7 linked regions of the Homo sapiens genome follow. The protein of the gene in region 7 purifies or fractionates together with the protein of the main gene of each other region. This does not show direct contact. Each region holds a gene or a part of one and is shown on either strand. Other genes may lie near its edges. The genes, in order: PHGDH, SFXN3, RCC2, RANGAP1, ALB, ATAD3A and ASXL1.

The links.
Region 1: the proteins of ASXL1 (region 7) and PHGDH purify together in Homo sapiens (affinity purification with mass spectrometry, with the first as the bait; 2 studies listed by BioGRID). This does not show direct contact.
Region 2: the proteins of ASXL1 (region 7) and SFXN3 purify together in Homo sapiens (affinity purification with mass spectrometry, with the first as the bait; one large-scale study listed by BioGRID). This does not show direct contact.
Region 3: the proteins of ASXL1 (region 7) and RCC2 purify together in Homo sapiens (affinity purification with mass spectrometry, with the first as the bait; one study listed by BioGRID). This does not show direct contact.
Region 4: the proteins of ASXL1 (region 7) and RANGAP1 purify together in Homo sapiens (affinity purification with mass spectrometry, with the first as the bait; one study listed by BioGRID). This does not show direct contact.
Region 5: the proteins of ASXL1 (region 7) and ALB purify together in Homo sapiens (affinity purification with mass spectrometry, with the first as the bait; one study listed by BioGRID). This does not show direct contact.
Region 6: the proteins of ASXL1 (region 7) and ATAD3A purify together in Homo sapiens (affinity purification with mass spectrometry, with the first as the bait; 2 studies listed by BioGRID). This does not show direct contact.

The regions. Positions count from the first base shown.
Region 1 is NC_000001.11:119,718,434-119,721,933, forward strand, and holds part of PHGDH (D-3-phosphoglycerate dehydrogenase), read left to right. Parts: intron 1-1,444; exon of another isoform or gene 1,445-1,459; coding exon of another isoform or gene 1,460-1,486; intron 1,487-2,736; coding exon 2,737-2,888; intron 2,889-3,500. UniProt on the Homo sapiens protein: Catalyzes the reversible oxidation of 3-phospho-D-glycerate to 3-phosphonooxypyruvate, the first step of the phosphorylated L-serine biosynthesis pathway.
Region 2 is NC_000010.11:101,029,927-101,034,033, reverse strand, and holds the start of SFXN3 (sideroflexin-3), read right to left. Parts: upstream 2,801-4,107; 5' UTR 2,500-2,800; exon of another isoform or gene 2,092-2,499; intron 1,721-2,091; 5' UTR 1,561-1,720; coding exon of another isoform or gene 1,552-1,560; intron 1-1,551. Other genes in the region: PDZD7 (PDZ domain-containing protein 7), read left to right, coding at 3,815-4,040. UniProt on the Homo sapiens protein: Mitochondrial serine transporter that mediates transport of serine into mitochondria, an important step of the one-carbon metabolism pathway.
Region 3 is NC_000001.11:17,433,178-17,436,677, forward strand, and holds part of RCC2 (protein RCC2), read right to left. Parts: intron 1-3,500. UniProt on the Homo sapiens protein: Multifunctional protein that may affect its functions by regulating the activity of small GTPases, such as RAC1 and RALA. Required for normal progress through the cell cycle, both during interphase and during mitosis.
Region 4 is NC_000022.11:41,255,188-41,258,687, forward strand, and holds part of RANGAP1 (ran GTPase-activating protein 1), read right to left. Parts: intron 2,920-3,500; coding exon 2,761-2,919; intron 1,638-2,760; coding exon 1,524-1,637; intron 1,104-1,523; coding exon 1,004-1,103; intron 919-1,003; coding exon 834-918; intron 1-833. UniProt on the Homo sapiens protein: GTPase activator for RAN. Converts cytoplasmic GTP-bound RAN to GDP-bound RAN, which is essential for RAN-mediated nuclear import and export. Mediates dissociation of cargo from nuclear export complexes containing XPO1, RAN and RANBP2 after nuclear export.
Region 5 is NC_000004.12:73,417,787-73,421,286, forward strand, and holds part of ALB (albumin preproprotein), read left to right. Parts: intron 1-301; coding exon 302-525; intron 526-1,720; coding exon 1,721-1,853; intron 1,854-2,467; coding exon 2,468-2,512; 3' UTR 2,513-2,535; intron 2,536-3,305; 3' UTR 3,306-3,500. UniProt on the Homo sapiens protein: Binds water, Ca(2+), Na(+), K(+), fatty acids, hormones, bilirubin and drugs. Its main function is the regulation of the colloidal osmotic pressure of blood. Major zinc transporter in plasma, typically binds about 80% of all plasma zinc.
Region 6 is NC_000001.11:1,518,662-1,522,161, forward strand, and holds part of ATAD3A (ATPase family AAA domain-containing protein 3A), read left to right. Parts: intron 1-259; coding exon 260-329; intron 330-1,479; coding exon 1,480-1,645; intron 1,646-1,886; coding exon 1,887-1,956; intron 1,957-3,500. UniProt on the Homo sapiens protein: Essential for mitochondrial network organization, mitochondrial metabolism and cell growth at organism and cellular level. May play an important role in mitochondrial protein synthesis. May also participate in mitochondrial DNA replication.
Region 7 is NC_000020.11:32,356,946-32,361,130, reverse strand, and holds the start of ASXL1 (polycomb group protein ASXL1), read right to left. Parts: upstream 2,801-4,185; 5' UTR 2,356-2,800; coding exon 2,299-2,355; intron 2,146-2,298; exon of another isoform or gene 2,118-2,145; coding exon of another isoform or gene 1,894-2,117; exon of another isoform or gene 1,824-1,893; coding exon of another isoform or gene 1,797-1,823; exon of another isoform or gene 1,280-1,796; intron 422-1,279; coding exon of another isoform or gene 325-421; intron 1-324.

The sequences.
Region 1 (3,500 bases), on a different chromosome or scaffold from region 7:
TCCAAGGGATTTTACAGTTTGGTTTTTGCACCTAACTGGCCATGGCCTTGGCTCTGGCCCTATCTTCTTGACATCTTGGCAGGTCTACCAACTCTTCTTCAGTTACAGTCTCAGAGTTAGCCAGTGGCAATGACTTTCCAGTTCTTGGCTGGTTTTTGATCTGTAAGAGTGACCTTGGGCAGGTTACCTCTCAAAGCCTCTGTTTCTTTATCTGGAAACTGGGGATGATTATACCCCTTCTCCTTGGAGTTGTGAAGAGAATAATGTAAAGCAACTGGTGTAATGCCTAGTACCCAGCAGGTGCTCAATAAATGGTTTATGTGCTGGTGAGGCTGGTACTATGGATATATGGTATAGAGTAGATAAAGTTTTAATATAAAATCCCTGCATTAGGCATAGAAAATATAACTAAGGAGACCAAAACTGCAGGTCTAAGAGAGGACAACTAGATATGAAACATATTATATTGGTGATCACAACAAAAATGGTGGGGTGTAGGGAGAGTGACAGTTCAGGGTTGTTGGCAAATGTTTCCTGGAAGATAACTTTATTGCACCTTGAAAAGTCAGTAAAGTGTGTCCAGGCAGGGAAATCCTTTTCTTTGGAGCCTGTGTGGTGGACTTGAATGTGGAAAAGATGCCAGTATCCTGTTTCTGCCTGGCTTGGCTGATATTTAACTAGGCTGCTATGGGGGGAAATCAGAATACCTCCAGGTGCTCACCTGGTGTTGGCCTCAGCACTGGGGCAGTCAGCACTGAGGTGGCTTCTGTTTGATTCCTCTAAGCCCTGGGTGCCCATGTGACTTGTATACACCCAGGTCATAATCAGTTTAGCATAATGCCAGATACGTACATAGCGGGCATCCGATAAAATGAAGGAAGAAAAGTACAGGGGAGGGGAAGGGAAAGTAGGCAGGCTTAACTTTGTTGGGCTTCAGTTTTTCCTCTGTAAAATGGAGTTGGACCAGATGCTGGTGAACATTTCTTCAAATCTCCCACTCTGACGTTCTGCTTCAGAACCTCAGACATAAAAGGATTTGGAGTGTCTTCCAGGCCGCCTGCATGTTTCTCTCTGCTGGTAGGCACAGCCCCCAAGCAGTGAGGATGTGTGATGCATAAACACCTCCAGAGGAATCGTTCTACTATTGCTCTTGAACAATTCTTCCAGTGTTTAGAAGCTCTTAAGGCTTAAATATTCTATGCTGCAGCCTAAGCATCATTCCTCTTCTCTTCTTAGTGGAGATAAAATTACCCACTGCTCTCCTTACATTTACTTTGTCCATATTTGCTCCTATGCTCTAGGCTCGTGCACAACAAACACAGTGTGGGCCCTTACCCTAGAAGCCAACTTCTCATGACCTTTCTCTATCTCCAGAATCCATGCAGTGGGAATGAAGGTAAAAGAAGGTTTTCATGGGATCCAGCTGAGAGCTCTACGGGGAAAATGGATCTGAGGAGCCATGTGCTCCATCTCTTTTATTTTACAGGTAGAGACTAGGGGTATAGAGTGAGGTGAATTACCGCAGTGACCCACACATTGTTGGCAGACCTAGGATTAGAACTCTGTCTTCCTGGTTCCCAGCTTGGTGCTTTTGAAAGCATACTTGCTGCTTTCTTACCGGCCTGGTGTCTGCCACTTTGGGACAGAGTGTGGACTTGCTCACCTGCCCCATTTCTTAGGGATTCTCATTCTGTGTTTGAGCAAGAATATTCTTATTCTGGAAAGAACCACATACCACAGGATTCTGGGTGAGCATAAGGAAGATTGTCTTGGGGATCTGACTTAGCTCACGTATAGTGGCTATGATGAATTCAGTGTCTTATTTTTTGCATATGTATATTTTTAGTCTAATATTGCCTGGGTGTCTGAGCAAGTCTAGATGAATTTAATTGCTCTCATTTTTCCCCTGCCCCTCTTCCTTTGGTCTCTCTTTTAGGAAATGTTTTTCTTTCAACATTCGTTTCATTCATTATTTACTCATTCGGCCAACCAACATTTATTGAGTGCCTTCCCTGTATCAGGGACAGGGGCTTACAAAGTAGAATTTGATCCCACCTCTGCCCTCAGTAGCTCAGTGTCTAATGGAGGTAGTGATGTTCATTAAGCGTCGCCAGATACTGTGCTAGGTGCTGTGCCTGTTCTCTCTCGCTTGTTCCTCACACACTTGAGAAGGCCGAAGCTGATTCATAGCTTGGAAGGCAGGGGCCTTGGATTTGAACCCAGGCCTGACCAATGGCAGAACCTATCAGATGTGTGGACAGATGACATTGCCTTTCTTTCTTTGGATATATCAAAATCAGCCAGCAGGCAGGAACTCCCATTTTGAGCAAGCAATGTGCAGGAATGATAGGGTATACAGAGAGGAACAGGAGATGGCCCCTGACTTCCAGCATGTGTCTGATGGACATCCAGGCTGCAGGCATCATGGTGCTGTCTAGAGAGATGAGCCAGGTGCCCAGAGCCCATGGGCCAATGCTGCCCTTTCTTGAGCATGCCAAACAAAGCGGTTGGTGTGTTAGAGGCACAGTCTCCTCCACTCTAAGTAAAAATCAGCATGAGTCCTAGCCCACATTTCCCTAGTGAGTATACCAAAGATATCTATGAACTGGCAGTCATCAGTGACTTCCTAAGGTTCCGGAAATGCATCTCTTACTCAGGAGTAAGCAATGATGTGCCTGCGGCTTTACGAGTTCTCACAGAATGACTTTCTGGACCCAAATGTTTTTTCTGCTTCAGGACTGTGAAGGCCTTATTGTTCGCTCTGCCACCAAGGTGACCGCTGATGTCATCAACGCAGCTGAGAAACTCCAGGTGGTGGGCAGGGCTGGCACAGGTGTGGACAATGTGGATCTGGAGGCCGCAACAAGGAAGGGCATCTTGGTTATGAAGTAAGTCATGGAGGCTGCGGGCGGTTTGGGGGTAGGGGGGTGAGTGCGGAGACTGACCACACCTAGGGAGAAAAAACTCACTTGAGAGAAAGCTGAGTCCATTGGAAGGGCTTCCAGGAGGATGCCTGGTCTAGGGCCTGCATGGTCAACACACACAGCATAGTGGTTTCAAGGTTTTTGGAAGGCAGCTATGCTCACCACTATATCACCAATGCCATCAGGGTGTTACACAGTTTTTGAAATTGAGAGTCCCTGCATAATCTCAAAATGTTTCACGAGCCCACCCCATGCGCAGTTGCTTGCACCTCTGTGACCTGGTTCAGGAATCGGAAGGTCAGTGAGTTCATCTGCATTTCCTGCTCCCACCCAGCCCCCTCTGCCTCTATTAATGCTGTTTGTGGCAGGTTTTTGTCAGCTCTACTTTACTGTGCTTGTACAGAGGCACAACCTTTGCTAGCAGACTAATGACTAGAATCCTTGCCCTCCCCACTTCCCTGCCACCTTCTGGAACTAAGACACTAGTTTCTCTTTCAGTGCTCTAGGGCAAGAGGAGAAGGGTCCCATTTAAAGCTGTTTCTGCAGAAACACAGGGGCAGAGGTCATCAGCACGCC
Region 2 (4,107 bases), on a different chromosome or scaffold from region 7:
TTGCCCCTGGGAACTGAATGTCTCCATATAAAACGCGATTGCACATTTGTTCAATTCTGAGATAGGAGAAAAACCGCCCTATGGTGGGAGGTGAGATATGTTTGCAGTAATGCTGCCTTGTTATTCTTTACTCCGCTGAGATGTTTGGGTGGAGAGAAACATAAATCTGGCTTACATGCACATCTAGGCATAGTACCTTCCCTTGAACCTAATTATGACATAGATTCTTTTGCTCACATGTTTTTTGCTGACCTTCTCCTTATTATCAACCTGCTCTACTACTACATTCCTTTTTGCTGAAATAATGAAAATAATAATCAATAAAAACTGAGGGAACTCAGAGACCGGTGCCGGTGCAGATCCTTGGTATGCTGAACGCCGGTCCCCTGGGCCCACTGTTGTTTCTCTATACTTTGTCTCTGTGTCTTATTTCTTTTCTCAGTCTCTTGTCCCACCCTACTAGAAATACCCACAGGTGTGGAGGGGCAGGCCACCCCTTCAACTAGGTAGGTAAGCAAGGGTGTGGGGAGGAGCTGTTTCCTGGGCAATGTCCCAGCCCAGGGACCTGCAGCCACTGGAGGAGGGGGAAGGGAAGACCAGAAACAGGAAAACAGATCTCCTTGTGCTCTATCCTGGTACAGATTTTCATGAGTGAGGATTTACATATATGTGGTTGACACATAAGCAGCAACAAACATCCCAGCCACGTGTGCTACAGATGCACAAGAATATATAATATATATATTACACACCCATGCTCAGGTGAGCTTTAGGCCCCAGCTGCACTGAGACCTGGATACAAACCCCCAAGGCTGTTTTGGAAAATGGCACAAGACATCCCACACTCCAGTCCCTGATTGGAGGAGAGCAAGGCCTTACTGGCCACCCAGGGCTTATCTGTTCCAGATCTCAATCAGGGGACTCTGATGTCAGCCATGTGTGTGCATGTGGGCACGCACAAGTCCTCTCTACAGACCCATTTTTCTCCAACTCACACTGAATGACCCCAGGCTCTCCCTGGTCCCTGGCCAGGCAGGGCTGGCACAGACACTCATCCACCTCTCTCTGGGCCACTTGCCTCCGGATAAGAGCAGGATTCAGTGGCTGCTCCCTCCACCCAGCACAGAGAGGAAAGCCTGGTGCAGCCATCTGGCTGAGTTGGGCAGAATCCTACAGAATGACTAATCCTCTCCAGCCACACTTCCTCCCGCAGAGGCAGAGACGCCCTCCCCTCACACTCACATACCCACACACAAAGACACTATCATGCACACCCTGCCCAGACATACAGACAGAGTGGAGGTGTCCTGTATACACCGGCCTTCAAACACCTTTACAGGCGCACACTGTGCCCATCTGCAGACACTTGAATGTGTGACTACACACAGCCCCACCCTGACATTCCTCCCCCCAACCTCCCTTGTGCCCTGTGGACTTGGACCTCCACAGAGCCGAGGACATTGACTGCACCAGGACAGACAGTTTCAAGGCAGGCCTCCTTCTCTGACCCCCATTCCAGAACCCCGCCCGCCGGGGAGAGCGAGCACTTACGCTTTCCATCGCTCTCTGAAGCTCTCAGAACCGCCTTCCTCTCTGCCTCCGCTGTCGCCGCCGGGCCCTCCCAGCCATCACGCGGGACGTCACGCGTGACGCCGACCAGCAGGGAGGGGCAGGAGCTTCCCGGCCGCGCCCACCCGGTGGGCACGGGGATTGGCAGAACCTGAGGGCGGTGGGTGTCATTCGAGGCGATGCCCCCAGCCTGGGCCACCTGGACCAGGCCCTAAGCTGCTTCCCAGAGCCAATCCCACCTCGGGGATCAGTTCTGGCCCCCTCCCCAGCCAAAGGGAGGAGGGGCTGGAGCCGCGGGCGCTGCTCCCTTGGTTTACAGTCCCCTGGCGGGCCTCAGCAGACCCCCAGCCCTGCAGCAAGCGGTCTAGGTGCCCAGAGAGAAAGCCCCGGGCGCAGGTGGGCGGTGTGGAGGGGCGGTCCTCTGCTGGCGCGCCGGGAGGGACTCGGGTTACCGCCTGGCTTGTTTACTTGATGGCTGCCTTGGCAATGGCCTTTGGCTTGCTTGTCCCCCTGGGCTCCTACCCCAGTATCCACAAGCTCCTCTTGTAGCAGCGCGGCATTCGCATCACTTCACAGCCCCGTTCCTGTCGTGCCTGTGCCTCTTCTATGTCCCCAGCCCTCTCCCTGCTCCCCCTCTGTAACCCCTAGCTCCACTGTGTCCCTGGTCTCCTTACGCTCCCAACCCCTAGCCCTGCACCCCAGACCGTAGCCCCACCCCTGAGATGTGGAGGGGCAGACGACCCCAGGAACCTCGCGGTCTGCATCCGAGCAAGTGCATCAGAAGGATTCTTAGGATTCTTCCGGTCCTGGGACCAGCTGCCCCACCCTGCGACCATTCCAGAACTGGGTAGCCAGAGACGCCTTCTGACAGAGGAGGAGGATGCAAGTGAAGAAGGCACCCCCTCCGCCACGCACATACTCACAACTCACCCAGCCACCACACAGAGCACGCCTGCAGCAAACTCAGGCTCACGTCCCGCTCTGCCCCGTGACGTCCCTCCACGGAGGCCTCAAGGGTGCCCAGGGAGGGGTGGCAATTCCAGGAGCCCCGGTAGCTGGCTCGGCTCAGAGAAGAGGTGGTTCGAGCCGGAGGGGAACAAGCCAGACCCAAGCCCTAAATTTGCGGAATGAGCTAGGGCGTCAGAACCAGAACTGGGGTGGGTAAAGAACTCCGCTGCCCGGGACCAGGTAACGCTCGGCTGTCCCTGGCGCCTAAGGGAGGTGCCGGAATAGAATGACTGGCGGCCCTACCAGCCAATGGGAGCCCGGGGCGGTGCAGGCCAGCCCAATTCCCGCAGCCTCCGCGCAGCGTGGGTGGGGTTTGCCGGCTGCGGCAGTAGCTCTCGCCTGCGGGTGGTTTGACAAGGCTGGCGGCGCCACACCAGCGACCAGGTGAGGCCGACCAGGCACAAAGGGGTGGGGGGCCTGGAGGGCCGAGTTGATGTTGGGGTGCTTCATTCTAGGTCCCAGAGCTTCTCTGAGGGAACTGGCCCTGGGTTTTGCGCGGGATGTCGTGGGACCCCTCTCCAGCAGATCCTCCCCAAAGCTTGGGAGAGGTTCATGCAGCCTCTTTAGACCCGGAGCCGCAGCCTGGAGCCCGCGGGTGTCTGGGGGTCTTCCTGGGCCTCAGCTGTCTAAGGTCCTGAAGCCCTATCCTCGAGGCCCAGCCCGCCCCACGCAGCCCCCGCCCCACCCCGGGCCACCTCCATGCCCGCATATGCATGAGAGAGGTGATGCCATGAGCTGTCCTGACCTCTCTTTTGTCTCACACCTCTCTAAGCCCCAGGGCCCGCAGTAATCCCAACTCCACTCTCAACCTCTACTGAGGACTGGGGACGGGAGTAGATGACTCAGCCCCGAGCAGGAATGAGGGGTGAAAGGTTCCCACCTGCCTTGTATAAAGTCAGCGAGAGTCCAAGATGGTGCCTGGACGGGGCAGTTCTCTGGCCTAGGGTGAGACAGGAGGGGGGCCTAAGGCATGGGAGGGCAGGATGCTTAAACCAGGGGGAGGGGTGGAAGTTTTAGGGGGCAGCAGGGGAAACATTTACACCCCTCCCTCATCCCTGCTCTCCCTGCCCAGGCCTGGAGCTCACACTTCTGAGAGGCATCGCAAGCGAGGGCCTTCACGTTACTGAGACCCCAGCCCCGCACAGAGGCTCATGGAGCTCGAAGCACGCAGGGCTGGCCTCTCCAGAGCTAGCAGATTCCTTCTGGACCTGTAGGGTGCCGCCCTAGCCCAGCCGCCATGGCGCAGGGTTTCGCAGTGGGCTTCGACCCACTGGGCCTAGGAGACCTGAGCTCCGGCTCTCTGAGCTCCCTCTCCTCCCGAGGCCACCTAGGCAGCGACTCAGGCTCCACCGCAACGCGATACCTGCTAAGGAAGCAACAACGGCTGCTGAACGGGCCCCCCCGCGGAATCCGAGCCTCATCGCCCATGGGACGCGTCATCCTCATCAACTCCCCCATCGAAGGTAGGGGCGGGACCCAGCCACTGGCCTGGGTTGGGGAGGGTGGGGGTAGGGGACAATGGGAACTCAG
Region 3 (3,500 bases), on a different chromosome or scaffold from region 7:
TTTCCTCACACATTAGATGGAGGTTAGTGTATTTCGTTATTATTTACATAATTGTTTGCTCTAAGCTGCTTTCTTTTATTTCTCTATAACTTCTTTCCTCTGCCTTATGTGGAATTAACATTTAAATAGAGTAACAGAGAACTCCCAGCACCCCTTCTCACTTAAGGGGTGCTCCTCTTCCTCAGAGACCAGAAACAGCCAATCGTGGGAGAGACTCCCGCGCTTGCGGGCTCCACCCGGGGCGGCGGGGCAGGGCGGGGGTGCCAGTGGGTGTGTGGGTGTCTGAAGCTCAGTGTGCCCTCCCAGGCGGAATCCAGCCTTCCCTGATGGGCCTACGGATTGTTTTTTTGGACGAACTCAGTGTCTGCGACCCTGCTTGTGTATAAAGGCCACGCAGCAGACAGCCTGGCAAACAGTCTGCCCAATGAGATGAGTGATTTTCATGTCATTTCACCTGGCTGCCTCCAGCAACTTGGTCACATAACCTGGGCAGAGACACACAGAAATGGACAGAAAAGGCACTGAGCTTCTTCAATCAACAAAATGGGATTTCTAGTCTAAAGCAATTTTTGAATTATGATCCAAATGCAAGGTGCGCGTTTACGGGGCCCAGAGTCAACCTTTTAACATAGGTCCATGTAGAAGACCGCTGCTCCGGGGAGGTAAGACCCCCGGGAACAATGCCGGCATCGACCAATTACCTAAGGGCCATCAACTGAAACAGACTTCCGGGTTGGCTTTCAGTTTTATTTATTTGCTCCTTTCAGATTCAACACATCTGTCTCAGGGTCCACAAAACCTTGGCAACCCAAGACTGGAAAAACTACAAAGACCTGGGCAGCTTGCAACACTCACCTGTTTTGTAGGATCTGGCCAAGGCTGCTGCCTTTACTTGCTTTAGGAGGTTATGAAGTGCGCAAAGAATTAGGACTGAATCTACCCTAGTGTGACACTGCCATCAATATTTGGAGTTCCTGGCATGCAACTTCCCAAATCCTTGGAATCTCCAAAGCAATGTCTTTTTGTATGCTAATGACTGACACTGGCAGCCCCCAGGCAGCTTCCGGATGGGGCAGTGGGAGCCTAGGGACTTTCAGCCCCATCCTCCAACCTCAGGAGGGAGATGACTGAAGGTTAAAGTGATGATCAATGGCTTAATCTACCATGCCTACATAATGAAGCCTCCGTTAAAAACCTGTAAGGACCAGGTCACAGAGCTTGTGGAGAGCTGAACATGTACCAGGTGGGTGGTCTGCAGAGGGCACGGAAACACAGTGCCCCTTCTGCCACATCTAGCCTTACAGGTCTCTTTATCCATAGCCTTTGTAATATCCTTTATAATAAACTGGTGTTTCCCTGAGTTCTGTGAGCCATTCCAATAAATTAATCGACCCCAAAGAGGGGGTCATGAGAACCCCAACTAGAGGCTAGTTGGTCAGAAGCTACCAGGGACTGGACTTGCAACTGGTGTCTGGGGTGGAAGGACAGTCTTGGGGACTGAGCCCTCAAGATGAGGAAATCTACCTCCAGGTGGATAGTGTCAAGAGATGAACTGGAGGACACCCAGCCGGTGTGTGCTGCAGAACTGATTGCTTGCTTGATAGCAGGGGGAGACCTCCCTTTACGTCTAGTCACAGAAGTCTTGTGTTGGGAGGCGGGGCGTGGTGGCTCACGCCTGTAATCGCAGCACTTTGGGAGGCGGGCAAATCACGAGGTCAGGAGTTCAAGACAGCCTGGCCAACATGGTGAAACCCCATCTCTACTGAAAATACAAAAATTACCGAGCACAGTGACAGGTGCCTGTCATCTCAGCTACTCAGGAGGCTGAGGCAGGAGAGTTGCTTGAACCCAGGAGGTGGAGGCTGCAGTGAGCTGAGATCACACCACTGCACTCCAGCCTGGGAGACAGAGCAAGACTCCATCTGGGGTGGGGGGTGCGGAAGAAGTCTGGTGTTGGTTGTTGAGTGTGGCCGTGAGAGCGGAGGAAAAAAGAATTTGAATTTTTTCTTAACACCTAGGCAATGACAACGCTCATCTGCCATAAGAATGTTCTATAAAATGCACATCTTTTACTCAAGGCAATTCTGCCCCTCAACAATGTAAGTATTTGGCTCATCTTCTACAAGCCCGACACCTGCAGCTTTGGGGTCACTGAAGGCAATATGGTTTTGGACATTTCCTGGGCGGCTGCTTTCACACAGACCTCCTCCTAGCAACCCTGAGCGGGGCAAGGCATGCAAAATGCTCAGTAAAAAAGGTTCTTTCTGCAACAAGGACTGCTGTCTGCCTGTGGCAGCACACAGGGTCCCTAGGACTGCTCAACAGAGAAACAGAGACCAGAAACCTGGGGCCAGGGAGACTGGGCAGGAGGCCAACCCAGGACAAGGGGCAGAGGGCTGCCCTAGGCCTATGGAAAGGCAATGGGGCTGCATGGACCCAGCCCCGAACATGGACCAAACTCAGTAGATGCTAACAAAACTTAAACGTGGGGCACTTTGGGAGGCCAAGGTGGGTGGACCACCTGAGATCAGGAGTTCGAGACCAGCCTGGCCAACGTGGTGAAACCCCGTCTCTACTAAAAATACAAAAAATTAGCCAGGTGTGGTGGTGGGCGTCTATAATCCCAGCTACTCGGGAGGCTGAGGCAGAAGAATTGCTTGAACCCGGGAGGCGGAGATTGCAGTGAGCTGAGATCGCAACATTGCACTCCAACCTGGGCAACAACAGCTAAACTCCAGCTCAAAAAAAAAAAAAAAAAAGCAAAACTTAAATGTAGGGTGTGCACTTTCCATGAGGCATAAAGGGGCATCATATGCTGAACCCTCAGCCTCCCAGGTGCTCTGATTCTAGAACAGCACCGACAGCCCAAAGGATGGGCATCATGGGCCCCTGTTGGTTTTAAGTGGATAGAGAAAGGAAGATGTAGCTTTTAGAGTCCTGCTTATACACATATGTAAAATAATAACGTATTTATGTGTATAAACAGGAACTTAAAAGCTGCAATGGACTGCTGTTTACTCACATTAAGACTTACAAACATGCAACCCAACACAGGGCTCGCGCCTGTCATCCCAGCACTTTGGAAGGAGGCTGAGGCAGGCAGATCACTTGAGGCCAGCAGTTTGAGACCAGCCTGGCCAACATGGTAAAACCCAGCCTCTACAAAAAGTACAAAAATTATTCGGGTGTGGTGGAACACACTTGTAATCCCAGCTGCTCGAGAGGCTGATCAGCACACAAAAATCACTTGAACCTGAGAGGCGGAGGTTGCAGTGAGCTGAGATCGTGCCACTGCACTCCAGCCTGGCCATAGAGGGAGACTCTGCCTCAAAAAAAAAAGACTAACAAATGTGCCATTTCCATTGACAAAGCAGCTTCAAGCAGCACAGCTGGAGACAGAGGTGGGCCAGGGAGAGCCAGTGTCCCTCACACACTCCCTGTCTCTACCTCCTTGGGTCAATCTCAGCATGGGGTAAGGATCTTTTGCTCTGATGGCAAAA
Region 4 (3,500 bases), on a different chromosome or scaffold from region 7:
TAGGGGTGTCCTTGCCCCATAGGAAGGCTGGACCATTTCCCAGGGACAGTGGGACCTGTGAGGTTCAGCCCACCTCGGAGTCCCCAGTTCCTAGCCTCAGCTCAGGGCCTAGCACCGAGGAGACACGACTGAGTATCTGACACACGAATGAGGCCGACTTGGAGATGCGAGGGGCACAGGGAGCCCGATGCTGATGGCCCAACCGGACTTGGATCCAGGAGATGGCCACTCCCCGGCCACCCACCTTCACCTCCAGGTAGACTCCCCAGGCCCCATGGTCTCTTCCTTTCTAGAGTCAGCGTCTTAAGAACAATCCCGAGTGCAGCCCCTTCTGGCTGCCCCCACCTCCCACCCCCATCACTCCCCAGGCCCCACCACATCAGGATGAGATCTGGCCTCACCCCTTCAGAGGCCTCCCCAACTCCACCACTCTACAGGGTGGCCCCGCTCAGCCCGTACGAGCTCCTCTGTTGAACGGACAACTCATTCTGTCTCCACCCCACGAGACAGAAGCCCTGACTGTCCCATCCTTATAGCCCTGATGCCTAGTGTATGACCTAGTACGTAACAGGAGTGCACCCAACGTTTCTGAATAAATACAAGTAGAAACAAATAAAGGGGCCAGGTGTGGTGGTGGGTGCCTGTAATCCCAGCTACTTGGGAGGCTGAGGCAGGGGAATCACTTGAACCCAGGAGGTGGAAGCTGCAGTGAGCCGAGATCACGCCACTGTACTTTAGCCTGGGGAACAGAGCAAGACTCCATCTCAAGAACAAAAGAAAGAAAGAAAGGAATGGCCTGACCCCGACCTCTGGGGCCACCCCGAGTTCCCTACCTGAGGGACGCCAGCACCTTGGCCATGTTGAAGCCCTCCAGCACCTCCTGAAGCTGTTCACAGCCTTCTTCTCCCAGGGTGTTGCCTGCTCAAGGGGAGGGAAGAGCAGTCAGCCGGGGTGCCAGGGCCAGCCTAGCAGACCTGTGCAGAGGCCTCCCCCATCCGACTACCATTCAGGTCCAGCTTCTCCAGCTCAGCTTTGTCTGCCATGGCCTCAGCAACAGCCAGGGCAGCATCCCTCTTGATTTCACAGAATGACAAGTTCAGCTCCTGAAAATAAGAGGAAGGGTTGGAGGCAGGCAGAAACCCGGGCCAGGACACCAGGTTCTACTCTAAGCCTCAGTTTCCCCAAGTGAGGATATGGCAGGCTCTGTCCTCCAGGTGGGGCAAAGTGGGCAGGAAGAATAACACCAACAACAAAAATAATGCCCTGCAGCCAACGATGAGTCACGTACTGTGTTTACTTAAATCACAAGACAGTGATGTACACCACTCCCTGCCTCCCGCTTTAGAAATGAAGAAACCATGGCTCAGAGGGGTGTGGAGGCTCACACAGCATCACAGGGCCCGAAGTGGAGGAGCTGGGATATGGACACAGGCCCACCTGCCTTCAGACCAGACCCCTGTGCCCCCAGCCGCCCCACCACCCACAGACCCCAGAGGGAGGACGTCAGGCGTCCAGGCTGGCACCTTTAGCTTGGGCAGGCCGCCGCGGATGGCATCTGCAATGGCAACTGCACCCTTGGAGCGCACCAGGCAGTCCCCAAAATTAATCACCTCCACCTGCCGCAAGGTCTTCAAGGTCTGTGAGGGGGAAGCAAGGGTCCAGAGTGAGGGTGCAGACCACACCCCAGCCCTCAGCAAGCCCCGGGGGCCCCACACGGTCACATCCCAAGCCAGCCACCACACACTGTCCTCCTCTGCAAGTCACCAGCTTTGCCGTCTTCTACTTGTTGGCCTCTGGGCCCCTGGCCAAACCTCCTCCACCCCTCCCCATGTTACGGCCAGAACTCTTCCTGAGACCAACCAAGCAAGGTTCCTGCTGAGCATCCGGGTCTTCCACACGTAAGCTGATCCCTCTGCCTGAAACACCCATCCCCCACCCTCTGTCCAGAGAAAGACCACTTGCCCTATACAACTTAGCCAAAATGTGATCTCTTCCAGGAAGCCTGCCCTAAGTCTGATTTGAACTTCCTTCTGGCGTGTTCCCCAACACCTGCACACATCTCTGCTAACACACAGGCAGCCGGACTAGCCTTCTGTGGGGCCACGGGACCCTGGCAGCCAAGAAGCCACTGCGTTCAGAGCCCAGCACTGTTACCACTGGCAGCTTCCTTCCCTCCTTGAGCTAGGGTCTCCCTGAAGGCGGGGTCTTTGGCTCAACCCCATGTGGCCTGCACTTGGTACAAAGCCAAGCACTAAATGGGGACTCAAAAAACAGCTGCTGGGCCAGGCACAGTGGCCTGCACCTGTAATCCCAGCTACTCAGAAGGCTGAGGTGGGAGGATCACTTGATCCCAGAAGTTCAAGACCAGCTTGGGCAACAGTAAGATTCCGTCTCAAAAAGTGATAATAAATAACAAAACAAACAACAGCTGCTGAACAAATCAACCAGGAAAACAGATGTGGGGAGCAGTCTGCTCCTGTGCAGCCTGAGAACAAACCAGCGGCAGCCGCTGGGGGCTGCAGAGGCGGCTCAGGAGAAGGTGGCATGAAGAATCAGAGCTGCCCGAGGAGGGCGTGGGTTACCTTGGGACCTGCAACCCTGTTCAGGACATGTTCAAAGAGCTGGAGCCATGGGGCACACACCCAGGGGGCAGGCAGGGGGTAGAGGAGTCCCTGCTAAACGGAGCCCCAGCTTCCCTGGAAAGACAGCAGCCAGCCTCTATCTGGCGGGGCCCAACTGGCTCTGCCACACTCGCCTCACCTCGGCCATGGCCACGGCGCCCTTCTCAGTGAAGGTGTTGTCATTCAGGTTGATGACCCGCAGCAGGGGGTTGACAGCGAAAGCCTGGGCCAGGGCAGTGATGCCAGGGTGGTTGATCCCATTCTGTGGCATGTGGACCTCCTCCAGGGTCCCGATGACCTGTGAAGAGGAGGCAGAGAGTGGAGGGGGCCCCGAGTGCCAGGTGACATCCAGCAGGCAGGAGAGCAATTCCACACAGCAGGCACAGGAATGGGCTGCCGCCAGCACAGGGCAGGGGCCTGTCTGTGGGATTTTGGGGCATGGCTGCATCTAACTCTTTCCACAACCTCCTGAGGGAGGCCTACTGCCTGGGATAGGATCCCCACCAGAGAAAAGACTAGGGATCAAAGAGGCGAAGTGACTTGCCCAGGGTCACAGAGCTCTAGATCCAGCAGGTCGATTTCTTGTTCTCAGTCTGGTGTCCTCAGCACAGTGGGGACCCTGGCTGTGGTGGGCAGGCACTCATGCCCCTTCTCTGGATGACATAGCTCCATGTGACCTTTCTTTCTTAGGGGCCCTCCTAGCCCACCCACCTACACAACATAACCCCTTCGACATGGCGTCCTTCTCTAGGGATGAGGAGGGTGTTCCCTGGCCCATGCAGCCCTATCACAGCCTGGCCTTTTGATACCCATTCTCTCTGCCTCCTTATTTTCTTTTTCTTTTTTCTTTTTTTTTCCTTTTTTGAGACGGAGTCTCGT
Region 5 (3,500 bases), on a different chromosome or scaffold from region 7:
ATGTGTGTGTGCATGCACGTGTGTGTATGTGTGATATTGGCAGTCAAGGCCCCGAGGATGATAATTTTTTTTTTTTTTTTGAGACGGAGTCTCGCTTTGTTGTCCAGGCTGGAGTGCAGTGGTGCCATCTCGGCTCACTGCAACCTCCGCCTCCCAGGTTCAAGCCATTCTCCTGCCTCAGCCTCCCAAGTAGCTGGGACTACAGGTGCATGCCACCATGCCTGGCTAATTTTTTGTATTTTTAGTAGAAAATTTTCAGCTTCACCTCTTTTGAATTTCTGCTCTCCTGCCTGTTCTTTAGCTATCCGTGGTCCTGAACCAGTTATGTGTGTTGCATGAGAAAACGCCAGTAAGTGACAGAGTCACCAAATGCTGCACAGAATCCTTGGTGAACAGGCGACCATGCTTTTCAGCTCTGGAAGTCGATGAAACATACGTTCCCAAAGAGTTTAATGCTGAAACATTCACCTTCCATGCAGATATATGCACACTTTCTGAGAAGGAGAGACAAATCAAGAAACAAACGTGAGGAGTATTTCATTACTGCATGTGTTTGTAGTCTTGATAGCAAGAACTGTCAATTCAAGCTAGCAACTTTTTCCTGAAGTAGTGATTATATTTCTTAGAGGAAAGTATTGGAGTGTTGCCCTTATTATGCTGATAAGAGTACCCAGAATAAAATGAATAACTTTTTAAAGACAAAATCCTCTGTTATAATATTGCTAAAATTATTCAGAGTAATATTGTGGATTAAAGCCACAATAGAATAACATGTTAGGCCATATTCAGTAGAAAAAGATGAACAATTAACTGATAAATTTGTGCACATGGCAAATTAGTTAATGGGAACCATAGGAGAATTTATTTCTAGATGTAAATAATTATTTTAAGTTTGCCCTATGGTGGCCCCACACATGAGACAAACCCCCAAGATGTGACTTTTGAGAATGAGACTTGGATAAAAAACATGTAGAAATGCAAGCCCTGAAGCTCAACTCCCTATTGCTATCACAGGGGTTATAATTGCATAAAATTTAGCTATAGAAAGTTGCTGTCATCTCTTGTGGGCTGTAATCATCGTCTAGGCTTAAGAGTAATATTGCAAAACCTGTCATGCCCACACAAATCTCTCCCTGGCATTGTTGTCTTTGCAGATGTCAGTGAAAGAGAACCAGCAGCTCCCATGAGTTTGGATAGCCTTATTTTCTATAGCCTCCCCACTATTAGCTTTGAAGGGAGCAAAGTTTAAGAACCAAATATAAAGTTTCTCATCTTTATAGATGAGAAAAATTTTAAATAAAGTCCAAGATAATTAAATTTTTAAGGATCATTTTTAGCTCTTTAATAGCAATAAAACTCAATATGACATAATATGGCACTTCCAAAATCTGAATAATATATAATTGCAATGACATACTTCTTTTCAGAGATTTACTGAAAAGAAATTTGTTGACACTACATAACGTGATGAGTGGTTTATACTGATTGTTTCAGTTGGTCTTCCCACCAACTCCATGAAAGTGGATTTTATTATCCTCATCATGCAGATGAGAATATTGAGACTTATAGCGGTATGCCTGAGCCCCAAAGTACTCAGAGTTGCCTGGCTCCAAGATTTATAATCTTAAATGATGGGACTACCATCCTTACTCTCTCCATTTTTCTATACGTGAGTAATGTTTTTTCTGTTTTTTTTTTTTCTTTTTCCATTCAAACTCAGTGCACTTGTTGAGCTCGTGAAACACAAGCCCAAGGCAACAAAAGAGCAACTGAAAGCTGTTATGGATGATTTCGCAGCTTTTGTAGAGAAGTGCTGCAAGGCTGACGATAAGGAGACCTGCTTTGCCGAGGAGGTACTACAGTTCTCTTCATTTTAATATGTCCAGTATTCATTTTTGCATGTTTGGTTAGGCTAGGGCTTAGGGATTTATATATCAAAGGAGGCTTTGTACATGTGGGACAGGGATCTTATTTTACAAACAATTGTCTTACAAAATGAATAAAACAGCACTTTGTTTTTATCTCCTGCTCTATTGTGCCATACTGTTAAATGTTTATAATGCCTGTTCTGTTTCCAAATTTGTGATGCTTATGAATATTAATAGGAATATTTGTAAGGCCTGAAATATTTTGATCATGAAATCAAAACATTAATTTATTTAAACATTTACTTGAAATGTGGTGGTTTGTGATTTAGTTGATTTTATAGGCTAGTGGGAGAATTTACATTCAAATGTCTAAATCACTTAAAATTGCCCTTTATGGCCTGACAGTAACTTTTTTTTATTCATTTGGGGACAACTATGTCCGTGAGCTTCCGTCCAGAGATTATAGTAGTAAATTGTAATTAAAGGATATGATGCACGTGAAATCACTTTGCAATCATCAATAGCTTCATAAATGTTAATTTTGTATCCTAATAGTAATGCTAATATTTTCCTAACATCTGTCATGTCTTTGTGTTCAGGGTAAAAAACTTGTTGCTGCAAGTCAAGCTGCCTTAGGCTTATAACATCACATTTAAAAGCATCTCAGGTAACTATATTTTGAATTTTTTAAAAAAGTAACTATAATAGTTATTATTAAAATAGCAAAGATTGACCATTTCCAAGAGCCATATAGACCAGCACCGACCACTATTCTAAACTATTTATGTATGTAAATATTAGCTTTTAAAATTCTCAAAATAGTTGCTGAGTTGGGAACCACTATTATTTCTATTTTGTAGATGAGAAAATGAAGATAAACATCAAAGCATAGATTAAGTAATTTTCCAAAGGGTCAAAATTCAAAATTGAAACCAAAGTTTCAGTGTTGCCCATTGTCCTGTTCTGACTTATATGATGCGGTACACAGAGCCATCCAAGTAAGTGATGGCTCAGCAGTGGAATACTCTGGGAATTAGGCTGAACCACATGAAAGAGTGCTTTATAGGGCAAAAACAGTTGAATATCAGTGATTTCACATGGTTCAACCTAATAGTTCAACTCATCCTTTCCATTGGAGAATATGATGGATCTACCTTCTGTGAACTTTATAGTGAAGAATCTGCTATTACATTTCCAATTTGTCAACATGCTGAGCTTTAATAGGACTTATCTTCTTATGACAACATTTATTGGTGTGTCCCCTTGCCTAGCCCAACAGAAGAATTCAGCAGCCGTAAGTCTAGGACAGGCTTAAATTGTTTTCACTGGTGTAAATTGCAGAAAGATGATCTAAGTAATTTGGCATTTATTTTAATAGGTTTGAAAAACACATGCCATTTTACAAATAAGACTTATATTTGTCCTTTTGTTTTTCAGCCTACCATGAGAATAAGAGAAAGAAAATGAAGATCAAAAGCTTATTCATCTGTTTTTCTTTTTCGTTGGTGTAAAGCCAACACCCTGTCTAAAAAACATAAATTTCTTTAATCATTTTGCCTCTTTTCTCTGTGCTTCAATTAATAAAAAATGGAAAGAATCTAATAGAGTGGTACAGCACTGTTATTTTTCAAA
Region 6 (3,500 bases), on a different chromosome or scaffold from region 7:
CGGGTACACACACACACACACACACACACCCAAACGGGTGCACAACCCACCCACACATGGGCACAATCACCCCCACACACATGGGCACAGTCACCCGCCTGCACATTCGGGCACCGTCACCCCCCGCAAACGGGCACCGTCACACCCCGCAAACGGGCACACTCACCCCCCTGCACACTCGGGCACAGTCATCCCCCGCACACATGGGCACAGTCACAGGTTTTAAAGGCTTTTCTCTTTTTCTGCGGCTTCTTCTCAGCAACTTCTCAATGAGGAGAATTTACGGAAGCAGGAGGAGTCCGTGCAGAAGCAGGAAGCCATGCGGCGAGGTAGGCTGTCTGCTCTCCTGGCTGGGGCGGAGGTGGCGGGGGCTGCTTGTGGACCCGGCGTGCACTCTGAGCCTGAGTTCTGCCGCCCGGCCCCTCATAGCTACCAGTGCAGTGGGCGAGGCCTGCTGGGGCTCCGCGGGGTGGGGCTGCCTCTCGGAAGACACCTCTGTCTGCGAGTGGACGCCAGGATCTGTTCAGGGAGGGCAGGAGCTGCTTCACTTCATGGGAAGTACAGGGGCCTTTTTTTTTTTTTTGAGACGGAGTCTCGCTCTGTCACCCAGGCAGGAGTGCAATAGCACGATCTCAGCTCACTGCAACCTCTGCCTCCCAGGTTTAAGCAATTCTCCTGCCTCAGCCTCCCGAGTAGCTGGGATTATAGGCTCCCGCCACCACGCCCAGCTAATTTTTTTGTATCTTCAGTAGAGAAAGGGTTTCACTGTGTTGGCCAGGCTGGTCTTGAACTTCTTGATCTCATTATCCGCCTGCCTTGGCCTTCCACAGTGCTGGGATTACAGGCGTGAGCCTCTGCGTTCTGCCTAGAACATGGGTCTTTACTGTCCTGGTTTCAGTGGGGATCACAGGTATTTGGTGCCATGTGGCATTTGTTGGCGAGTGCTCCAGGCAAACGTCTGTCACCACTCTTCACCGTGGGTGGGCTTGTGGCGAGGTGTGTGCGTTTAATGTTCAGTAGCCAGGCACGTGGCACGTCACGCGTGTCTGAGTTCTGACAGCTGTGTTTCTGTGTGAGGGGGGCTTCCTTCAGAACTCCGCGTTCTGGTTTTTTGCTTCAAAGAGCTCGTCCTGAGAAGTTGCCTAGGCCTCTGGGTCGGATTTCTGCCCTAATCCATGGGCAGGGCCGGCCTGTGGCGCTGTCCCTACCAAGGTCTGTGTGTGTCTGTGGCATGGACCTGTCCGTGGCCTTAGCCTATTGGCGGCGTGGGCCTGTCTGTGGCGTGGGCCTGTCCGTGGCCTTAGCCTGTCAGCAGTGTGGGCCTGTCCATGGCGTGGGCCGGTCCGTGGCATGGGCCTGTCTGTGGCGTTGGTCTGTCCGTGGCGTGGGCCGGTCCGTGGCGTGGGCCGGTCCACAGTGTGGGTGGAGGTGGACGCGCTGCACTGCATGGTGCTGAGCTGCCCTGCCTCTCTGGGGCAGCCACCGTGGAGCGGGAGATGGAGCTGCGGCACAAGAATGAGATGCTGCGAGTGGAGGCCGAGGCCCGGGCGCGCGCCAAGGCCGAGCGGGAGAATGCAGACATCATCCGCGAGCAGATCCGCCTGAAGGCGGCCGAGCACCGTCAGACCGTCTTGGAGTCCATCAGGTGAGCACTGCCGAGGCCCGGGCCGGCCACAGATGGAGCCCCGCAGGTGTGAGTCGCTGGTCCCAGGGCGCTCTCCAGCTCTTCCAGGCCTTGCCGCCGTAGGCTGACTCCTTGGTGGGGGCACTGCCCCTCTGTCCTGGCAAGGCCGTGCCGCCATGTCAGGGCCTCACCCTCAACCTGCTCTCGCTGCGTGGCACGGATCTTCGTGTCCTTCCTGGTCACACCACTGCTTTCCCCGCAGGACGGCTGGCACCTTGTTTGGGGAAGGATTCCGTGCCTTTGTGACAGACTGGGACAAAGTGACAGCCACGGTAAACATACTCATAAAACAGGGCTGGCAGGTGGCTGAGGGGCAGCATGTGGGGGCCTCCTGGAGCCCCAGGTCCTGTCCCTGCCGGCTCTGCACAGCCCTGTAGCTCTCCCAGCAGGGAGGAAGCCCACGTTGTACCTGCTGGCCTCGGCTTCTCCTCCCTTCTCAAGCTGGGAGAAGAAAACGCAGTTGCCAGCCTGGGCCACACAGTGAGACCCCATCTCTACAAAAAATCAAATATTAGCTGGGTGTGGTGGCAGCCCCTGTGGTCCCACTACTCAAGAGGCTGAGGTAGGAGGATCACTTAAGCCCAGGGAGGTTGCAGCTGCACTGAGCTGAGATCGCAGCACTGCACTCCATCCTGGGCGACAAAGTCCTTGTCTCAAGAAAAAAATTGTCGATAGTCGTGGCTCACACCTGTAATCCCAGCACTTTGGGAGGCAGAGGCAGAGGCGGGCGGATCACGATATCGGGATCGAGACCATCCTGGCTAACACGGTGAAACCCCGTCTCTACTAAAAAAATACAAAAAATTAGCCGGGCGCAGTGGCGGGCGCCTATAGTCCCAGCTACTCAAGAGGCTGAGGCAGGAGAATCACCTGAACCCGGGAGGCGGAGCTTGCAGTGAGTCGAGATCACGCTACTGCACTCCAGCCTGGGCCACATAGTGAGGCTTCTTCTCAAAAAAAAAAAAAAAAAAAAAAAAAAAAAAACCAGAAGGCAACCCTGACTCCATTTTGCAAAAACCTTCTTTATTCCTTATAAAACCCTGAGAGTTTGAAGTTCACAGATTCTTCTCTCGTTTAAAGCCTCACTCTTTTGTGCCCAGCCTCCGGCCTGCTGTGGTGGCGCCCCACGTCCCACATGGCTGTGTCCTCCGTCCCCACCCCGCCCAGCACACGGTAGGTGCCCGGCACTGAGTGGGCACTTGCTCTGCCGTGGTGCCGGCGCCCAGAGCTGTGACTGCAGCGCCTGCCGGTGGCCTGGTCAGTGTGACGGTGAATGTTGCAGGTGGTGTTGCCACCATGTTGGTGAGACCGTGTCACGTGAGGACATGACGGAGCTGCTTAATGCGCCGATGACTTTTGTTTGTTTGTTTTTAGAGACAGGGTCTTGCTCTGTGGTCAGACTGGAGTGCAATGGTGCCATCTCGGCTCACTGCAACCTCCACCTCCCCAGTTCAAGCAGTTCTCCTGCCTCAGCCTCCCAAGTGACTGGGATTACAGGCTCACGTCACCACACTCAGCTAATATAGGCCTGTGCCACCAGGCCCGGCCAATTTTTGTATTTTTAGTAGAGATGGGTTTTCACCATGTTGGCCAGGCTGGTCACGAACTTCTGACCTTAAGTGATCCAGCCGTCTTGGCCTCCCAAAGTGCTGGGATTACACGGGTGAGCCACCGGGCCTGGCCTAATTCATTTTTTGTTTGTTTGTTTTTTGAGACAGAGTTTTGCTCTTGTTGCATAGGCTGGAGTGTAGTGGCGCGGGTCCAGCTCATTGCAACCTTTGCCTTCCGGGTTCAAGAGATTCTCCTGCCTCAGCCT
Region 7 (4,185 bases):
GTGATTATTCCACCTCAGACTCCCAAAGTCTCGCAAATCCTTTTTCACATGTATAACAGCACCACAAAGTAATTCCTACTCATAGGCTGGGCGCGGTGGCTCACGCCTGTAATCCCAGCACTTTGGGAGGCCAAGGTGGGCGGATAACCTAAGGTCACGAGTTCGAGACCAGCCTGACCAGCATGGAAAAACCCCATCTTTACTAAAAATAAAAAATTAGCCGGGTGTGGTGGCAAACAAACGAAAAACAAACAAACAAAGTAATTCCTATTCATATTACTATTTTTAATGAAGAGCCTTAGAAGAAAAAGAGGAATAACTTACCCTGATAACCTGGCTTGAAGTTGAGTCAATGATAAAACAGAAATAGCAACCTCGATGTTGAAGTTCAGACCACGGTAAATTCGAGAATCTAAAGAGACTTAACAGTGGACCCCAAATTCCTAAAGTCAACTAGTAAGAGCCAACAGAACTTTGAGACAAACAGATTTCATAATTCTGTCAAGACATAAATAACACAAGACTTAAAAGTACTTTCACCTACCTCTAACAAGTAAAACTCTGGCAAGCAAATTTCCTTGGGTGCCCAGGGTCATAAACACCCGCATAACAGGAACGCCAAGGAGAATGTCAATGAACACACAAAACTCATTGTCGAGGAGGAGAACGAGAGCTCTCTCCCACTCCCCATCAGGCCTATATTTGTTTCCAGGTGCAGAACCGTTAGAGAAATCCTGAAATTTCTACAAGATCCTGAAAACTAGCCCAAGCTTCCAATTTTGACTCAATCAGAAAAAAAATATTTCGGAACCTCAAAATCTTCAAACTTCACATGCCAGGCCAAAATAAACTGAAGCACAAAACTTCAGCATACAAACAATTGCTATTTTTGTTCCCTGGGCAACAAATGACTAGGGAAGAGGATAGCAAGCACCAATGAAAATTCTGTAGCCCAAATTCCTTCAGTTTTTATAAATCTGTAACTTTTACAGACTTCGAGAAAGAAAAAGGTGTACTTCAGGTTTGTGTCAACCCCCCCAATACAGTCTATTTTTTTTTTTTTTGCACAACACCTTTGAAGCAGAAAACTCACTTCAAAATAAGAGAGAAAATTAAGTCTGAGCTTCACTCATCATTAAAACTGAATTACAACCATTACATATAAACTACAGTGTCAAGAGACACTTATGCTATCCGCACCACAACCTCGCTGTGTGACAGATCTTAGGAACTGACATCTTAGTATAACCTGTTACTACTGGTATCAGCAGATAATTACCCGAATATGTCTCAAAGTGTCTGAGCTTTGTGGGAGTAATCCAAAAGGAAGCTATTTCACCTGCAAGTCCTCTGACGCTCTGAACACAAAATTCACAACCCCCATCGGTTGAACGAGACGGCTTCAAACACTCAAGTTACGCTCTCCCTTGCTAAATCCTCAGTGAACAACGTCTCCCAACAGAGATACTTTGTCTTTGTCCAACATACATTCTTTGCAAAGTGGATTCAGTTCTCCTCAAAATACCAATTTCCAGTCCAGCTTCTGAAGGCAAACAGCCCAGTCTGCGTTTCTCAAAGTGGGGTCCGTGAGCCACTGCGTTTGAATCACCTGGGAAGCTGGTGAAAGCGCAGATTCCCAGGCTCTATCCCAGACCCTGAGGCTCAGCAGGTCTTACGAAGGGCCCTAGGAGTAGCGTTCCTAACCGCCTCCCAGGTGTCGCCCACAGGACACTAAAGTTAGAGAACCGCTGCTCAGGGTTCAAGCTGGGAGTAAGCACTTGCTTCCCTCCACGCACCTGGTTTAGATTGGGAAAGCTCAACATGCCATTGGCGTCCTTGAATGTGGGGTCGCTTTTCCACCCCCGGAGTCAAAGGCACCACCCCATTACCCACCAGGAAGCGAGGGAGGAGCTTCCGACCCTTCCCGGAAACCCAACTCCCCCGGGTGAATGAACGAAGCTGCCCCAGACCCCCAGACGCTGCCAAATAGTGGGGGAGGGGACGCGGGACCCCGCTGCCCAGAGTGGGAGGAGCCGGCCTGCCAGCTCGCCCCTCCGCCGGAATTTAGCTGCGCGGGGCGGGGGGGGCGCGAGGGCGAGCGGAAAAAGGCGCCACATCCCATCCCGGCGGAGCGCTCCCCACCCCTCGCCTTGCGGGGCTGTCCCGTTCTTAAAGGAAGATGGCCCCGCCCCCTCCCGCGGTGGGCAGGGCCTTGCCCCTCCCCCCCCAGTGGGGGGGTGCGCGGCGAGCCCCCCCCACCCCGGGCCCCACGGAGCCCCCCTCGGCTGTCCGCCTCACCAGGCGCGCGGCCTCGGCCCACGTGCGCTCCTTCTTCTTCTTCTGTTTGTCCTTCATCCTTCTCCCCGGCGGCGGCGGCAGCTCCACGCGGGACCTCCGGGCTGGGCGGGCTGGGGCGGTGGCGCGGGGCTGGGGCGGCGGCGGCGGTGGGGGGGGCGCGTGGCAGCGGCGGCGCGCGAGGTCTCGGGTGCGGCCGGGGAGAAGGGGCGGGCACGCGGGGACCGGCTGGCGCGAGAGCGGCGGTGGGGGAGGGGCGGCGGCGGCTCCACGCGCCCGCGCTGCGTCAGTCGCCCACGGCGGCAGCGGCGGCTGCCCCGCGATCGCTAAGGAATGCGGCGGCTCCGCATAACCACGGGGTCAGAGGTCACGGCTCCGGCCTCCGCTTTCCCGCTCTGCTGAGGGACTGAGACAGGACCGACGGCGGGGCGGGAGGGCGAGACGCGGCTTTCCCTTCGGCGCCCGGGTGCGTGCGTGTCTGCCGTGGGTGTGTGTGAGTGTGTGTGAAGAGTGAGGAGGGGGAGTGTGGGGTTTTTTTTTTTTGAACAAAAACAAACCGAAAGGGCGCCTGGGAGTCGTAGTCCCAACGGCCTCTCTGGCCTCCCCCGCTCCGGAAGAATATGGCCGCGTGAAGCGCGTGGACCACACTTCCCGGCGTGCCCGGCGGCCCCCTTCCGCTCTCCCTCTCGCGTCCTCCGCCTAGCACCGACCTCAGCTAGGAACGGGGACGGGTCGCTGTTCGGGGAAGGGGCTGGGTGGAGTCTCGCGAGGTGCGAGAACTGGCTGGGGGCCTGCGGGATTCTGGGAGGCGATGCTGGGAAGGGGCGGTGGCTGGGCTCCCCCGGCCACCCTTAACCCCTTCGGTGCTTTTTGCTTCAGGACCTCCTGGCGGGTGCGGGTGGGGAGTGAGGATGGGGAGCTCGACTCGCAGTTCCCACTTCGTGCTTCTCCTCGCCTAAACGGTTCTTACCTACACTTCTCGTAGGGGACGAGAGGCAGGACTTTCCCTTTTGGTCACCTCTAAATGACTCACTGCCACATAATAATGAGACAAAAAGACCCTCATACCAGTAAAACGGTTATTCCACGGCTGATGGACTTAGACGGTTCTTCATTTCTTCCTGTGCTTTCAGGCCGCTGTGTATTTGCAGAGCCTGCACCAGCAGCCTAGAGCGTTCTTAGGAACTTGGTGATATGTTGACGGGTCGTGTAAAGAACTTGGACTCTGGGGCCATACTGACCAGAATGCACCTGAGGGCGTTTTTAGAGGCAGTACCCTGGAGAGAATTCAGGCCCTGGAGTCCAGCGGACCTAGACTGGAATCTTGGCTGAGTCACTCCCTGGCTGTCCACTCAACCTCTCTGAGCCTCAGTTTTCTGATCTGCATTTGTCTTGTATTTCATGGCATTATTGGAATTAAAATTAACATACAATTCTTGACAGATTGGAAGAGGATGTGAAGGGAGATCTTGACATTATCAGGTCCGTATGATATGGCGCCTGGCATAGAGCAAATGTTTAATAAATGGTAGCTGTTATTACCAGCTGAGAAACAATAGGCAATATACTTAGCCTCTCTGAGCCTTAGTTTTAGAACCTGAAATGAAATTCAGAGCGCCCAGCACATAGGTTTTCTGTAACTATAGGTTCAGTCGTTGTCCAGAAACATTTCTAGAGTCCGTCCGGAGTTGGATTGATGCCAGCTCTTAAAAACTATGAAGGCAGGATCAGTGGCCACATTTAAACGGTTTCCCTGGGTGAGGAAACACACTCTCCACTCCCTAATGTTAACACGTAGCGAGAGCCAGTATTGATAGGAGACCATTATGGTGTAGCCCAAACTCTAACGCCAAGGGGTTCAGTGTTTTCTGCTTCTAATACTGGTCACAG